3 linked regions of the Homo sapiens genome follow. The protein of the gene in region 1 purifies or fractionates together with the protein of each later gene. This does not show direct contact. Each region holds a gene or a part of one and is shown in the gene's direction. Other genes may lie near its edges. The genes, in order: PCDHGC5, EPDR1 and PNPLA6.

Region 1 (3,749 bases):
GGGAGGCCACTCTCATGGCTGTACACCCTTGGCTTCTGCACCCACTCGGAGTGATAGCTTCATGATGGTGAAGTCACCCAGTGCACCTATGGCAGGGGAGCCTGTTCGCCCAAGCTGCCCACCCTCTGATCTTCTCTATGGGCTAGAGGTGAGACCTTTGCAGGCTCAACAAATGCTTGAGGGTTATTCTGATCCAGGCATATGGCTAGGCCATGTCCTAGAGAGTACTGGCCTCTCAGTAAGTGCCCATAGTGATGTCACCATTTTTGTAAGAGGTAACTATGTGGTAGACGCTGTGCTTTGTAACTGTTTCGTGAATTAACCAGAGTTGTCACAGTTTAGCATTGGGGGCGGGTCATGCCTATATCTGAGTAAGAAATGAAAGTAATTGGTGATCAAGAGCCAGGCTGTTGTGGAAGCATGATGATGGAATGTGGGAGCACAGGAGGCTACAGTGCACAGGGTACAGTGCACCAGGCAGTCACTTGGACAAAGGTGGCTGTTTTCTCTACTCTTCCTGAAAGAGGGGATCAGATTCTGAAGTACCTTAACTCTAGGTTACCATTTCCCAAGGGATTGAGGGGAAATAAAATCTTTGTCTCCCAGTATCTAGTACACTGTGAAGGGACCTCTCTATTTGAAACATAGAGACAGCAGAAAGAGGAGAGAACTAAAGGAATAGAGAGGCACGCATCAGAGTGGTGGCATAGATCTTTTGGTCTGGGTCTTAGGACTCATATCAAGTCCCTACTGGGGATTTGAACTAGATGCGGTAAATTGGAAGGTTGGGGCGGGTTGGTCATCACCTTTGGAAAAAACAGTAAGTGAAATCACTTATGTCAGAAAACTGGTTTACAGTTGGCTGATTCATAGAAACAGCCACCCTGTGCATCTTTAAGTTGAGTTCTCCTGAATTTGGTGAAACCATGAAACCTAGAAGCCAAGCCATCCATGCTTGGCCTCTGACCACCCTCCTGGGTGACCTGATTCAGCCCCAGAAATGTTCCCCTACCCAAAAACTGTAACACTCATTCCACATTTGGGGTCTGGGGTGTCAGAAAAGCTAAGTCCCATGTCAGCTGACATTGAGATTTCCGCAAAGCATTGCTGGAGAGTCAGGGCAAGACTTTACAAGGTTCTTACTAATCTTTTCTCTCACCTTAGCAGCATTCAGCAGGATGGGGGAGGGTGGGGGAATACATGGGCTTTGCCTCTCCCAGAAGGACAAGATTTTGCTGGTTCAAGCAAAGTGGTGGAAGCTTCTGAAGTCATGCAGGAAGTTGCTGGGACAGAACGCTGAGGAGTTTTGTATCACTTTGTCTTCCCTGTTGAGTACCATCTGAGCTGTCAAACTTTGCTGCCAAGGGGGCTGAATCAACCTGCAGCACGAAGTGAGTGGGGAGGTAGGAAGCTTCTGTGACACAGATTTGCAGCCTGTGTTCCCAAGGTTTCCAGGATTGAGGAAACTCCATAATTGGTTGAGAGCACACAGACTTTTTGGCCAATCAGACTCAGAGCTGAGGTGGGAGATCTGCTCTTCCAGCCCGCCTCTCCTCCTCCAGCTCCCCAGCTCCACTCAAATTCAGCTCCCCTCCCCCCTGCCCACCCCCGCCACTCGGTGACTAAGAACTGCTGCAAGCAGGCAAACCTCCGAGCAGTTTTTAAGAGGCTGGAAGGAGACATAAGAGACTTCAGCTGCTGCATTCCAAGCCCTGGGTCTACCTTGGAGACAGGACAGCACAGACTTACTCTCCACAAAGGGACTTCTGGGTCATGGGGCCCAAGACACTCCCACAGCTCGCTGGGAAATGGCAAGTGCTGTGCATGTTGTCCTTGTGCTGCTGGGGCTGGGTGTCTGGGCAGCTTCGTTACTCAGTGGTGGAGGAGTCTGAGCCGGGGACGCTGGTGGGGAATGTTGCTCAGGATCTGGGCTTAAAGATGACAGATCTGTTGAGCCGGCGGCTGCAATTGGGCTCTGAGGAGAATGGGCGCTATTTTTCCCTGAGCTTGATGAGTGGTGCCCTGGCAGTGAATCAAAAGATTGACCGAGAAAGCCTATGTGGAGCCAGCACCAGCTGCCTGCTGCCAGTGCAGGTGGTGACTGAACACCCCCTGGAGCTAATCCGTGTAGAGGTAGAGATCCTGGATCTCAATGACAACTCTCCTAGCTTTGCCACCCCTGAGCGAGAGATGCGCATCTCAGAATCAGCAGCATCTGGGGCACGATTCCCACTGGACAGTGCCCAGGATCCGGATGTGGGCACCAATACTGTGAGCTTTTACACTCTAAGCCCCAACAGCCACTTCTCTCTGAATGTGAAGACCCTAAAAGATGGGAAGCCATTCCCAGAGCTGGTGCTAGAGCAGCAGCTGGATCGTGAAGCCCAGGCAAGACATCAGCTGGTGCTTACTGCTGTGGATGGGGGGACCCCAGCCCGCTCAGGGACCACCCTTATCTCTGTCATCGTGCTGGACATCAATGATAATGCTCCAACCTTCCAATCCTCAGTTCTACGTGTGGGAATCCCAGAGAATGCACCCATTGGTACTCTGCTGCTCCGCCTCAATGCCACTGATCCAGACGAGGGCACCAACGGCCAACTAGACTATTCTTTTGGAGACCACACATCTGAGGCAGTGCGGAACCTCTTTGGCCTAGACCCTAGCAGTGGGGCAATCCATGTGTTGGGTCCCATAGACTTTGAGGAGTCACGTTTCTATGAAATTCATGCAAGAGCCCGTGACCAGGGACAGCCTGCCATGGAGGGCCACTGTGTGATTCAAGTGGATGTGGGGGATGTCAATGACAATGCCCCAGAGGTGCTATTGGCCTCTTTGGCCAACCCTGTCCTAGAGAGCACACCAGTGGGCACAGTAGTGGGGTTGTTTAATGTGCGAGACCGGGACTCAGGTAGAAATGGTGAAGTGAGCCTTGATATCTCTCCGGACCTGCCATTTCAGATTAAGCCTTCTGAGAACCACTACTCGCTGCTAACCAGCCAGCCTTTGGACCGGGAGGCCACATCCCACTATATCATCGAGCTGCTGGCCAGCGATGCTGGTTCACCTTCCCTACACAAACATCTCACCATCAGGCTCAACATTTCAGATGTCAATGACAATGCACCCCGCTTCAACCAGCAGCTTTACACTGCTTACATCCTAGAAAACCGGCCTCCGGGCTCCCTTCTTTGCACTGTGGCTGCCTCAGATCCAGACACTGGGGATAATGCCCGCCTCACCTACTCCATTGTAGGAAATCAGGTTCAGGGAGCCCCAGCCTCCTCCTTTGTGTATGTCAACCCAGAGGATGGACGGATCTTTGCCCAGCGTACCTTTGACTATGAATTGCTGCAGATGCTGCAGATTGTGGTGGGGGTTCGAGACTCCGGCTCTCCCCCATTGCATGCCAACACATCTCTGCATGTGTTTGTCCTAGACGAGAATGATAATGCCCCAGCTGTGCTGCACCCACGGCCAGACTGGGAACACTCAGCCCCCCAGCGTCTCCCTCGCTCTGCTCCTCCTGGCTCCTTGGTCACCAAGGTGACAGCCGTGGATGCTGATGCAGGCCACAATGCGTGGCTCTCCTACTCACTGTTGCCACAGTCCACAGCCCCAGGACTGTTCCTCGTGTCTACACACACTGGTGAGGTGCGCACAGCCCGGGCCTTACTGGAGGATGACTCTGACACCCAGCAGGTGGTGGTCCTGGTGAGGGACAATGGTGACCCTTCACTCTCCTCCAC
Region 2 (3,649 bases), on another chromosome or scaffold:
GCACAGCAAGATATTTCAAGATCATCTATACTTTTCCTGCCCCAGTCCTAGGATAAACCATTTTTCAAGAAGCCCTGGTTACTTTTCCTGGAGAATAATATGTGGAAGTTAGAACCTGTGCTCTGGTCATGCTCAGTGCTATCAGGTGGCACTGCTACCAGGTCCTCTCAATGGACAAAGCAAGGGGTGTTAAGTTTGAATACACACATCCCTCCCCACACACACTCATACATATATACACATTTACATCTATATTTATTTCTGAACCTCCAGTTCTAATCCATACAGGTGTTTAAACTGATGCCTTCATTCTAATCCAACACTACATGGTTCATTCTAGTTTTTTTTTTCCTTTCATTTTTGCTACTCCCTTCTCAGCCAGTGAGAAAACTGGCTTACTATTCAATTGCAGTAGGTAACCAGTCATGTATCATTACGCTGTCTCCTTCACACATGGGCTCTGCGCTCCAGGCCAGCCCATGTAGAAGCCTATCTTCCTTGGTCCTACCTAGTGGCTTTAGTCTAAATTGTTCAAGAGAAAGGAGTAGATGAAATTATGTTCTTAACATATGTTTGTATTGCTTTTGGATTCTCAGTATGTCATCATTACAAATCCTCAGAGGGTGTTTCTGTGTGACTGGGGGAGGCAGACTAATATAAAGTGCTCAATAAATCTATTTGATCATGAATCTTGTCTTGCATGGATTGGATTTTCATTTTAAGAAATCACGACTTTGTGAATATTAAGAGCATGACTTCTCCTTTGACCTTTACTCCATCATTTTGGTCTCAGATGGCTGGAGATAGCATATTCTTTTGTGAGCTGAGGAAGTCTTGACTGCTTGTGGCCTCCTGATCCTCAAAGAATAAACCATACTGATTTGCAATACTTGAGTTTCGCAATATTTGAGTTTTTCTTCAAGAAACAGATTTTCTTGGAAGCACACAAAGTTTGATTTAAGGGACTTAATTCAGTGTGTCTATAGACCCTGGATTTCAGACAATTAATGCTGAGATGGGGAGGGAGAAGCAGGCACTGGGGAAAAAAGATCCAAAGAAGATAAGCCCAGGAGAGTAAGGAGGCTGATGGAATGTAAGACAAATTTACGAATGGAAGCCAGAGGTGGTCACTATACTGCTTTGAAAACATCTTTACTTTCTCCAATAACCTTGAGCTGTTTCTTCCTGATTCTGACCTTGAGGATGGTGGTCAGGGGCAAAGTGCCCAAAGATCTGAAAATATTCCACCAATTAGTGGTTTGTTTTTCCTGGAATAAATATGATAGTCTTAGATTTCACCAATTCCAGTAAAAAATTTCTATTTTCCCCCTTAACATTTTCTTTTATTTTACCCATCTTTAAATAAAAAAAAAAAACTTCTCTTGATCTTACCAGCTGAAATCTCATTCTCCTCTTCTATTTAAAGCAAATCTCATGCTAACTACAATTTTTGTACTCCCATGCTCTCTTGAACACCCTCCAATCACTTTTGTCACCATTCTATTGAAAATACTCTGGTCAAAAGCAAGAAGCTCTACATTACTAATCAACCAATCTTTGATCAGTCCTCATCTTATTGTAGATTAATTCCCCAATCTTGATGCACTGTCTTCACTTGGCTTTCAACATGCTAGTCTTCTGGTTTTCCTTCTCCCACCTTATTTCCTCTCCTCAAGCCTTTTTGCTCTTTCTGCTCTTCTCTGGACTGCTAATAGTGGACTCTCCCAGGGCTCAGGCTCTCATCTCTTTATGTTCCTACCTATACCCTAATTTTGATATATACTGAATCTGACCATACCTCTACTGTTATTCTGGCCCAAACTTTTATTATGTCTCGGCTGGATGTTTATGATAGCCTCCTAACAGTTGTCCCCACTTCGGACCTTGCTCCCTTTAGTCTGTTCTCCACATAGAAACCCCAGGGGTTCTCTTGAAAATACGTCATGCCACTTCTTGGCTCAGGATCTGCTCCCCAGCCTTTTCCCTACCTTATCTCTGTCACCAGCTCACTCATTGTGGACCTGGCCTCAGCACGCTGACCCCATTGGCACTTGAATCTGTCATTCCCTCTGCCTAGAAAGACTTTTTCCTAAGAAGCTGCATGACTTACTCCCAAATTGAACTGTTTCTCTGCTCAACATTCTCAGTGCCCCCTCACTGCTTTATATTAATATATCCAAGGCACTTATGACTATCTGGCAGAGTGTTTAACGTTAAAGTTTGTTCCTTCATCTCCCCCACCTTCCCTCATGCACAATAAGGCTCCGTAAGGCCAGGGGTTTTGTATGGTTGTTGCTGTGTCTCTAACTCCTCAGAACACTTTACATTCTTTTCAACATACTATGTGGGACCTAAACGAATACTTGTCCCATATGAAAAGAGCTGTGTTCTGATGTCGGAGAAGGCGATTCCCAAGCTCCATTTTCTAACTGCTAAGAGCAGGGCCTGACTAATTTTTATTTTTTTTTGAATCAGTGAATGAGGGAAATGAATAACTGATAATATACATTCATTGTAGAAGGATACCTAAATAATAGATATGTATTTTCTTTCCTTTTTTCCTTATAATTAAATTTCTTAGACAATAAAATGATAGATTTATGTAATGGTTTCATGGTTTTTCATTTATATGTTACGTTATACCTCTTTTCTGTTAAGAATGATTTTTGACATCGAATTACACTGCAGTGTTTTGAAAAGTTTTCCAGTAGGGTTGAAGTGGAGGGCACACCACCACCTCCAGAGAGTGGATGCCCCAAACTCCTTTCGCCCATGAGCCACTCCCCCACTGCCCTCTCATCAAACACTGTCTTCAGTGTCTCTCTTGTGCCTCAATTTCAATTTTGGGGAATTTCACCCAATGTGGGCATTTGAGATTTATTTCTAAAGCACCCACAGTTTCTCAGAAGCAGTGCCTTTTTGAGTCGGGAGGCCATCTGAAGAGGAATCAGATCCTTAGCAGGGTGCCTAAGTTACCCTCAGTCCCCCCAAAGAAAGGAGAAACTCTTGGGATGATGGCTCCCCTAAAGAAGGCAACTTCTCCTGGAGGAAAAGGATATACATGCCTTGGATGACTCCTGCCCGCTCACAGAAGGCTGCTTTTGTTGTGGCTTAAAGTTAGATCTTCTGGTAGAGTTCTAGAATGTGGGCCCTGCCGATGAGTGACAGCCAAAAGCTCACCTTGGAAGAGGCACCAGAGTCACAGCCCCAGCTCTCTCAGGGAAGACGCTGCTCCAGAGCATCTCAGAAGCCACCAGGGAAGACAGTGGCAGATGGGAAGCCGGTGGTGCAGGGCCAAGGGCACAGCTCTGCCTGACGCAGCATTGTCAGCAATAGGTAACATATAACTTATGAGGAGTATCTGAGTACCAGCAGGCACTCTTGGGAGTGAAGGATGGGGGAAGAGAATCTGCCCCAGACTTCATATCCATTGGAAATGCCACATCAGGTGCTGTATCTTGGCATGGATTGTGTTTCCTGTAGGTGTGGGAGTTCTTCTTCTCACAGTCAAGCCCTCCACCTGTCCCTTGTCACACACCCTGTCCTTTTGAATAGAAATTCTCATCCTAGCCCAGCTTCAGGCACGGCCTGGCTTACCCTTGGACCCCAGAGATCTCACCCTTCTGAGGTCTCAACTCTCCTTAAGGAG
Region 3 (3,649 bases), on another chromosome or scaffold:
GTTTCTTTTTTTTCTTTTTTTTTTTTTGAGACGGAGTCTCGCTCTGTCGCCCACGCTGGAGTGCAGTGGCGCGATCTTGGCTCATTGCAAGCTCCGCCTCCCGGTTTCACGCCATTCTCCTGCCTCAGCCTCCCAAGTAGCTGGGACTACAGGCGCCCGCCACCACACCCGGCTAATTTTTTGTATTTTCAGTAGAGACGGGGTTTCACTGTATTAGCCAGGATGGTCTCGATCTCCTGACCTCTTGATCCGCCTGCCTCGGCCTCCCAAAGTTCTGGGATTACAGGCGTGAGCCACCGCGCCTGGCCTTCTTCTTCTTTTTTTTTTTAAAGACAGTGTCTCACTCTGTCGCCCAGGCTGGAGTGCAATGGCATGATCTCAGCTCACTGCAACCTCAGCCTTCCAGGTTCAGGCAATTCTCTTGCCTCAGCTTCCTGAGTAGCTGGAATTACAGACATGTGCCACGACGCCCAGCTAATTTTTTTATTTTAGTAGAGACAGGTTTCGCCACGTTGGCCAGGCTGGTGCCGAACTCCTGGCCTCAAGTGATCCCCCCTGCCTGGCCTCCCAAAGCGCTGGGATTACAGCCGTGAGCCACCGCGCCCTGCGCCTTCATATTTTTCTTAACCCTTCCTTTCTTCTTTAATTTTTTCCTGTGGGGGCATGTTGACCTGAGCTGGGGTCCACGCTGTCCGGGTTCTGTGTTCATCACATCCCCTGCCCGCACAGGACGTGAGCCTGCACTTCGTGCTCTGGGGCTGCCTGCACGTGTACCAGCGCATGATCGACAAGGCGGAGGACGTGTGCCTGTTCGTAGCGCAGCCCGGGGAACTGGTGGGGCAGCTGGCGGTGCTCACTGGCGAACCTCTCATCTTCACACTGCGAGCCCAACGCGACTGCACCTTCCTGCGGATCTCCAAGTCCGACTTCTATGAGTATGACAGCCCGAAGTTGGAGTGTGGGTGGCACTCGGAGGACCCCAACCCGTGGGAGTGGCCAGAACCCCATCCCTCAACCTCACTCCTGGAAGAGCAGAAGGGAGCCCCCAGATCTGGCCTCCCAGCGCCGGTGTAGGACGGTTTTGAGGCCTTCCTCTTTCATCCCAAGTCTGTTCCTGCAGGATCATGCGCGCACAGCCCAGTGTGGTGCTGAGTGCGGCGCACACGGTGGCAGCCAGGATGTCGCCCTTCGTGCGCCAGATGGACTTCGCCATCGACTGGACTGCAGTGGAGGCGGGACGCGCGCTGTACAGGTGCAGCTCCCACCGCGCTGCTCAGGCCCGGCCTAGGGGTGGGGACCTGGGGGTGGTCAGACCTTGCTGACCTCCACGCCCACTCAGGCAGGGCGACCGCTCCGACTGCACTTACATCGTGCTCAATGGGCGGCTGCGTAGCGTGATCCAGCGAGGCAGTGGCAAGAAGGAGCTGGTGGGCGAGTACGGCCGCGGCGACCTCATCGGCGTGGTGAGCGCGACCCCCACCCACTGACCTCTGGCCTTTTCCAGGCCAGTCCCTCGACAACTCACACACATCATCCCGGGTAATCCAGGGAGTGGTGAATGCAGCTCCCGACCTCTGAGGTCACCCAGTCCACTCCCCGCCCAGACCTCATTTCGTTGGAAAAAGGGGATTCCGCCTGTCGTGGATCCCTGTCCTCTCCCTCTCCCCAGAGCTCTAATGGGTAGCGAGCGAGGCTTGCTTCCCTACACCCCCATTGCAGGGGAGCCCTAGATGGGGCAGTACAGCCCCCTTTCCACCCATCTTCGGCCTCCTCATTCCCCACCCAAGCAGCCCCAATCATGCACGCGGCCCCCCAGGTGGAGGCACTGACCCGGCAGCCGCGAGCCACGACGGTGCACGCGGTGCGCGACACGGAGCTGGCCAAGCTTCCCGAGGGCACCTTGGGTCACATCAAACGCCGGTACCCGCAGGTGCGGCCTGTTGTGGGCGGGGCAGAGAGGCGGAGGCGGGACTCCGGGGGGGTGGGGGCCGGGCCTAGTGTGTGGGCGGGGCTTACAGAGGGGCGGGGTCGAGGGAGGGGCCGAAGCGAGAGAGTGAGGGCGGGGGCTCTCGGGGGTGGGACCCAGGTAACGGGCACCCAGGAGCCCCGGCATAGGAGGGAGAGGTGGGACCTGGACAGCCGCTTCCCAGGTCTCACTGAAATGCCGGCCTCCAACGCCCCCAGGTCGTGACCCGCCTTATCCACCTACTGAGCCAGAAAATTCTAGGGAATTTGCAGCAGCTGCAAGGACCCTTCCCAGGTGAGAGCCGGCCGGCCCAGAGCGTGCTGGGAGATGTAGTCCGGCGTCCAGAGCATGCTGGGAGGGAAGCCTTCTTTCCTGAGGGATGCTGGGAAATGGAGTTCCGCGAAGAAATCGTGCCCCTGAGGGTTTCAAACCCTAAGTAGGACCCAGGTGCAGAGCATTCTGGGGAATGGAGTTCGTGTTCCTGAGCATGCTGGGAAACGAAGTCCTCGACCCCTGGCGTGCTAGTTAATGGGCTCGAAAGTAAATCAGTGGTGCCGGGGAGGGAGTCTTAGGCGGTGGACTTGGCGTAGTCTGCCCGGGAGTCAGGGCTTGCTGGGGAAGTCCACGGCCTGGACGTTGAGAGAAAGGGAGTCCTAGATCAGAATATGATGGCAGGGCCGTCATGGTGGCTCATGCCTGTAATCTCAGCACTTTGGGAGGCTGAGGCAGGAGGATCGCTTGAGCCCAGGAGATTGAGTTTGAAACCAGCCTGGGCAACATAGTAGGACCCCCGTCTCTACAAAAATTTCAAACATTAGCTGGGCTTGGTGACACATGCCTGTAGTCTCAGCCACTCAGGAGGCTGAGGCGGGAGGATTGATTGCTTGAGCCCGGAGGTCGAGGCTGCAGTGAGCCGTGATCGTGCCACTGTACTCCAGCCGGGATGACAGAGCTAGAACCTGTTTCAGAAAAAATAAAACAGCAAACAAACAAAACTCCCCATACCATGATGGAAAATAGTCTGTGGATTGTTGTTTAGGACTCTGGGCACCTCGCCTTCTGAAGTTACAGCTTGCTGGGAGATGTAGCCCCCTGTTTCAGCCTGTGGCTTCAGTGAGCTAGAACAGAATGGGGCGTGCGGTGGGGTTGGAGGCCTGCTGAAATGAGGGCCTGAGTTTCTACATTGTGGTGGCCAGATTCTGGGCCAGCCCAGCAACCTAGATACCCCTTTTCCCTCCAGGGGTTCTACCCAATTGGCCCTGAGCCCTAGATCCCCCAAGGCGGGGGCAGGGCGGTAGTGGCAGAAAAGACATCATTAAGAAATTACAGAGGCCTGGGGCGGTGGGTCACGCCTGTAATCTCAGCACTTTGTGAGGCTGAGGCAGGTGAATCACTTGAGGTCAGGGGTTCGAGACCAGCCTGGCCAACGTGGTGAAACTCATCTCTACTAAAAGTACAAAAATTAGTCGGGTGTGGTGGTGGGTGCCTGTAATCCCAGCTACTTGGACGGCTGAGGCAGGAGAATCGCTTGAACCGGGGAGGCAGAGGTTGCAGTGAGCCGAGCCTACGCCATTGCACTCCAGCCTGGGCAACCAGAGCAAAACTCCATCTCAAAAAAAAAAAAAGAAAGAAAAAAAAAAAGAAAAGAAAAGGAAAGAAATTACAGATAGAGAATACAATATC

Evidence for each region.
Region 2: the proteins of PCDHGC5 (region 1) and EPDR1 purify together in Homo sapiens (affinity purification with mass spectrometry; one large-scale study listed by BioGRID and IntAct). This does not show direct contact.
Region 3: the proteins of PCDHGC5 (region 1) and PNPLA6 purify together in Homo sapiens (affinity purification with mass spectrometry; one large-scale study listed by BioGRID and IntAct). This does not show direct contact.

What each region holds. Positions count from the first base shown.
Region 1 is NC_000005.10:141,487,468-141,491,216, forward strand, and holds the start of PCDHGC5 (protocadherin gamma-C5 isoform 1 precursor), read left to right. Parts: upstream 1-1,613; 5' UTR 1,614-1,773; coding exon 1,774-3,749. Other genes in the region: PCDHGC4 (protocadherin gamma-C4 isoform 1 precursor), read left to right, coding at 1-148. UniProt on the Homo sapiens protein: Potential calcium-dependent cell-adhesion protein. May be involved in the establishment and maintenance of specific neuronal connections in the brain.
Region 2 is NC_000007.14:37,927,036-37,930,684, forward strand, and holds part of EPDR1 (mammalian ependymin-related protein 1 isoform 1 precursor), read left to right. Parts: intron 1-3,649. UniProt on the Homo sapiens protein: Binds anionic lipids and gangliosides at acidic pH.
Region 3 is NC_000019.10:7,549,178-7,552,826, forward strand, and holds part of PNPLA6 (patatin-like phospholipase domain-containing protein 6), read left to right. Parts: intron 1-729; coding exon 730-935; intron 936-1,120; coding exon 1,121-1,252; intron 1,253-1,339; coding exon 1,340-1,463; intron 1,464-1,816; coding exon 1,817-1,930; intron 1,931-2,184; coding exon 2,185-2,260; intron 2,261-3,649. UniProt on the Homo sapiens protein: Phospholipase B that deacylates intracellular phosphatidylcholine (PtdCho), generating glycerophosphocholine (GroPtdCho). This deacylation occurs at both sn-2 and sn-1 positions of PtdCho.